Linked DNA regions of Homo sapiens: region 2 is linked to region 1. Evidence: fine-mapped expression QTL. A gene starts in region 1. The other region holds a variant in brackets. All regions are shown on one strand. Distances are from middle to middle. Region 1 holds the start of OR2L13 (olfactory receptor family 2 subfamily L member 13). Region 2 overlaps OR2AJ1 (olfactory receptor family 2 subfamily AJ member 1).

Region 1 (2,927 bases):
ATTTGCATCCAGTATTTATTGAGTCTCATCTCATCATCTCCTAGGACAAAGGGTGCCAAGATAATTCAAGAATCCAGCATTACTTTAGTTCCGGTTCCATCCATGTTGTTGCAAATGAAAGGAATTCACTCTTATTTTTTTTTATGGTTGAATAGTGTTCTATGTATCTAGTAAATTTTCATTATCCATTATATTACATGAAATAAGCCAGGCACAGAAAGACAAACTTTGAGCATTCTTGCTCATATGTGGGAGCTAAAATTAAAAAATAATAAATATAGTAGAATGACTGTTACCAGAGGCTCGGCAGAGTAGAGTAGAGTGGGGAATAAACTGGAGATGATTAATGGGCTCAAAAATACAGTTAGGATGAATAAGACTTAGAATGTAGTAGCACAACAGGATGACTATAGTTAACAATAATTTATTGTATATTTCAAAATAACTAAAAGTGGAATTGGAACATTTCTAACAGAAAAAATTAATAAATGCTTGAGGTAATAGGTACCCCAAATACCCTTATTTGCTCATTACACATTGAATGCCTGTATTGAAACATCACATGTACCTCATGAATATATGCAACCATTAGATAATCATAATAATTCTAAAAAATTAAAGGAAAAAAACAAAGAACATGGATATTAATTTTATAGCATTATTTCTAATTTCTGACATAAAATATAGCAGTTAGTGCCTTCAAAGATAAAAAAAGAACAATATAACCCCAAATAAAGTGTTCTTTTCTAGTTAACCAATGTATGGATTAAAGAGGTTAAGAGATGCTACAGTTGATTGAGCCCTTCCTCTGCAACAGACACTATGTAAACATTTGGCATACATCATTCTATTTAATTATTAGAATGTCCCTCAAATTAGTCCAGTTGTAAAGATTAGTAACAGGCTGAAATCTTAAGTAATTTTCCCAACTCAGCTTCCTAATTAGTGGCATAGCTGTCAGACTAGAGTATTCTCTCTGACTCTAAATGCTCATTTTATCACATTGTCTCTAAGAGTCAGCTTTCACTTTAGTAGAATAGCTAAATGGATATATATTGTCATGTATCAATTATCTACCCCCACCTAACAAGTAGAAGGAAGTGTTTTATCCTAGTATAATTTAATTTAGTCACAATCATCAATCATTCCCCCTGGAAACTCACTAAAGAGTGGACAGGAAACTATCCTTGGGACTAGTTCTGCTATTACTGAGTCGAGTACTTGTAAGTGGTTCCTGCACTTTTTTAATCCGGAATTCTCTAACTTACATGATGACAGAATTTCCATAAACATAATTTAACATCTTCTATAGCTCTGAAATCATGTACTGGAATATTAAATACACCCCTCTTTAGTCTGATTCTGGGTAGCAGCTGAATGCAGCAAAGTTGATTGGGTTGGTTGATTTGCTTTAAGTTCAGAATTTGAGTTCATCCCCAAATCAGCAAAGTCAAGTGAAGTGACCAAGGTTTTGGCCCCCGTGGACTTGGACACTGGAGATCAATTAGAGGAGAAAGAGGAATATCTAAGGGTTGGTGACTTAAGGTTCTGTGTGTAAAATATAGCCATTCATCCTTCTGTCTTCCAATGGTGGAACCTGAGAGACTTCAGTGTAAAATGCCTTATTCTGTTCTCACTGAAACAAGGTAAGAGGAAAGGAAGAGACTTTATCTAAACACTGCATATGCAAACAGGATAATATTTCACAAGAGCTGGTGAAGTTGTTTTCTGATTTCACCATAAAGACAATGACTAGCTGTGGGAGCTGTAAGGAATGAATATTATAAAGTGTTACCTGGTGTTTCTTCCTCATGAATTTTGGCAGATAAAGAAGAGATTCTCACTTCAGAAAGAGTTTTGGTTTAATGCAGAGCCTATTGATCAGTGATATAATGTTATTGATAGCCTGATATACTATCAGAACATAGTTTGATGCTTACATGTTTTAAATAATTATATGGAATGTTTGCAGATTATGATGTCACTGTAAAGCTGCTGCTTTTTTTTTTTTTTTTTGAGATGGAGTCTCACTATGTCACCCAGGCTGGAGTGCAGGGTCACGATCTCAGCTCACTGCAACTTCTGCCTCCCAGGTTCAAGTGATTCTTCTGCCTCAGCCTCCCGAGTGGATGGGATCACAGGCGCATGCCACCACGCCTGGCTAATTTTTGTGTTTTTAGTAGAGATGGGGTGTCACCATATTGGTCAGGCTGGTCCCGAACTCCTGACCTCGTGATCCGCCCGCCTTGGCCTCCCAAAGTGCTGGGCTTACAGACCTGAGCCACTGCGCCTGGCCATAAAACTGCTTTTTATACCACTATATAAACTGAAGAACTTCGGGCAAAGTGAGTCATAGTAATATAACTGAATTGAGTTGATTTGGGTCGGCTTTATCCTAGAAAGCTTTTTTGGAAATGTTTTCCTATCATCAGGAAACTCTCTGCTGCACAGGGAATAGACAGTTCCATAACAAATTGAAAAAGAAGGCTGGGCACCCAGGTGGCTCATGCCTGTAATCCCAGCACTTTGGGAGGCCGAGGTGGGCAGATCACGAGGTCAGGAGATCGAGACCATCCTGGCTAACACAGTGAAACCCGGTCTCTACTGAAAATACAAAAATAAAAATTAGCCGGGCGTGGTGGTGGGCGCCTGTAGTCCCAGCTACTGGGGAGGCTGAGGCAGGAGAAGGGCGTGAACCCGGGAGGCGGAGCTTGCAGTGAGCCAAGATCAGGCCACTGCACTCCAGCCTGGGCGACACAGTGAGACTCTGTCTCAAAAAAAAAAAAAATGAAAACCAAGAGTGAACTAAAAATGTAAAAAAAGGTAACATGAACTTGTTAGAGTTGCACTATGTGCAGCTCTCAAACAATGTGACATTAATAAAAACATTTTCTCAGGGCGTGAGGGCTCTCCATGGTTAACACAGG
Region 2 (2,927 bases), 160 kb before region 1:
TATTTAATGTACTAGAAGGTGAAAAGTGACATGCAAACATGTGAAAATGGAGCAGAGCAAGGAGGACCAGGAAATTAGGGTTTAAGTGGGAGCCCTACAATTTTTTAAAGGGTGTGCAAGGATAGGCCTCCTTGGGAAAGTGACATTTGAGAAAAGAGTAGATTTGAGTAAATTATGTGGAATTAATTAAGATTATGAGACTCAAGATGGAGCCAAGGGCCCACTCAATATACTGAATATCATCGATTATTTGAAGAAAGAAATGCCCAGCTTGTAAAACATGCCCACTCCAAAAACTGGCTAAGAGTATTTTGATGTTGATTACAAAACATGCATCACTAACTCTCATTTTATTATGCAGGTATATTATTGTTAGATTAAGATTTACACTAATATTTTTTCTTTATTATTAATTCATTATTTCTTTTTAGGTTAAAAAATAGAGAATTCATGATGGGCCATCAGAATCACACTTTCAGCAGTGATTTCATACTTTTGGGATTGTTCTCTTCTTCCCCAACAAGTGTGGTCTTCTTCTTAGTTTTATTTGTCATTTTCATTATGAGTGTAACAGAAAATACGCTCATGATCCTCCTCATTCGCAGTGACTCCCGACTCCACACTCCAATGTATTTTCTGCTCAGCCATCTCTCCTTAATGGATATCTTGCATGTTTCCAACATCGTTCCCAAAATGGTCACTAACTTTCTGTCAGGCAGCAGAACTATTTCATTTGCAGGTTGTGGGTTCCAGGTATTTCTGTCCCTCACCCTCCTGGGTGGTGAGTGCCTTCTCCTGGCTGCAATGTCCTGTGATCGCTATGTGGCTATCTGTCACCCGCTGCGCTATCCGATTCTTATGAAGGAGTATGCCAGCGCTCTCATGGCTGGAGGCTCCTGGCTCATTGGGGTTTTCAACTCCACAGTCCACACAGCTTATGCACTGCAGTTTCCCTTCTGTGGCTCTAGGGCAATTGATCACTTCTTCTGTGAAGTCCCTGCCATGTTGAAGTTGTCCTGTGCAGACACAACACGCTATGAACGAGGGGTTTGTGTAAGTGCTGTGATCTTCCTGCTGATCCCTTTCTCCTTGATCTCTGCTTCTTATGGCCAAATTATTCTTACTGTCCTCCAGATGAAATCATCAGAGGCAAGGAAAAAGTCATTTTCCACTTGTTCCTTCCACATGATTGTGGTCACGATGTACTATGGGCCATTTATTTTTACATATATGAGACCTAAATCATACCACACTCCAGGCCAGGATAAGTTCCTGGCAATATTCTATACGATCCTCACACCCACACTCAACCCTTTCATCTACAGCTTTAGGAATAAAGATGTTCTGGCGGTGATGAAAAATATGCTCAAAAGTAACTTTCTGCACAAAAAAATGAATAGGAAAATTCCTGAATGTGTGTTCTGTCTATTTCTATGTTAAATGCCTGAAGGATACTCATGAGAGGTTTCCTAGAAAGAAATCAAAGCTTCTATCTTACCACATATAAGAAGTGAATATTTCAGAAACATTGTTAATAATAAACAATAATATGTGTTTGTGTTGTAAACACGTACCTCTAAAAATGTAGTGTTCCTTCTGTGGTACCAATTATAATCATGCAACAGTTACAGGAAGTAGAAGTTACCCAAGGCGTCCTATTCCCTAACACCAAAATTGTAAGACTTATGAGAATATCCCTAAAAATACAGTCACACATCCATTGTATAAAAGACAAATCCATGTTTATTTTTATAAAACTTTGTTAAATTATATTGCTAACAATCACTTATCAAAAATTCACAAATTCCATATGAAATCATTATTCTTTGCCTGGTTT[A/G]TCAACACCTTTATTTAGTAAAATTTTACAGATACACATATATATGCACACACACATATATATGTACACACATATATACAGATATAAGTTGTGTTAAAATTGAATTACTCATCCTATGCTAGAAGCAACTATACAATATTAGATAGGAATATCATAAAAATTGCCTTATTTCATTTATACATACAGGATGATGTTTTACAAACTCTTCTAGCAATTTATCCTAATAGTTATTTCAAAGAAGATAATAAATATTTCTATTGAGAATTCATTTAATTTTTTTCCTTTTTTTTTTTTTTTTTTTTACAAACACTAAGACACACTTTGTAAGTTTAAAATGTATGGGCCAGGCGCGGTGGATCACGCCTGTAATCCCAACACTTTCGGAGGCCTAGGTGGGCGGATCACGAGGTCAGCAGATCGAGACCATCCTGACTAACACGGTGAAACCCCGTCTCTACTAAAAATACAAAAAAATTAGCCGGGCGTGGTGGCGGGCGCCTGTAGTCCCAGCTACTCGGGAGGCTGAGGCAGGAGAATGGCGGGAACCCGGGAGGCGGAGCTTGCAGTGAGCCAAGATGGCGCCACCGCACTCCAGCCTGGGCCACAGAGCTAGACTCCATCTCAAAAAAACAAACAAAAAACAAAACAAAAACAAAAACAAAAAACACGTATGAACAGCTTGAGTCAAATCTGCCTTCTGGCAGCTGGGCACCAAGTCTGCTCCCCCGCAGGCTCCTGCCTTCCTTCACATTGCACTGCTCATTGTGTGGTTCTGGTCCTGGGACCTGGTGGTAGGGGCTGGAGAATGGGGATTGGGCAGCCCAGTTCCGCTCTCCTCATGCAGTGTCCTGCGTCTGTCATCTGCTTGGGTTGTGGCTTGTGTGGAAGGACCACGACTGAGGTTGCCAGGCCAGCAAAGACGGGGTGCAGAAGAGTCTCAGCCAGAGTGATGTGCTGGGCAGCGTCCAATTTTACCACCCTCCGCATCAGGTCAAACAGCTGCACGTGCTCCAGAGAGTCTTGGAGCATGTCACTCTTCAGACGTTTGCAGTTCTTCACATATGGGCTGTCAGAGCTGTTCTCATCCCAA

The links. PIP is the estimated chance that this variant, and not a neighbour inherited with it, causes the effect.
Region 2: its variant is the best candidate, but not a certain one, in a credible set for the expression of OR2L13 in prefrontal cortex (BrainSeq, PIP 0.88).

Annotation. Positions count from the first base shown.
Region 1 is chr1:248,093,609-248,096,535 of GRCh38, forward strand. OR2L13 (olfactory receptor family 2 subfamily L member 13) reads left to right here and starts at 1,576. Exons shown (of 3, transcript NM_001395936.1): 1 at 1,576-1,646. LOC105373275 (a long non-coding RNA gene) reads right to left here and starts at 1,934. Exons shown (of 4, transcript XR_949369.3): 1 at 1,796-1,934.
Region 2 is chr1:247,933,316-247,936,242 of GRCh38, forward strand. OR2AJ1 (olfactory receptor family 2 subfamily AJ member 1) reads left to right here. Exons shown (of 2, transcript NM_001355235.2): 2 at 432-2,024. The coding sequence starts at 454. The coding sequence ends at 1,440. It also overlaps the pseudogene CLK3P2. Among named protein-coding and RNA genes, the nearest start is that of OR2AJ1, 9.9 kb to the left of the region's middle. The variant A/G (reference allele first, on the strand shown) is at 1,838.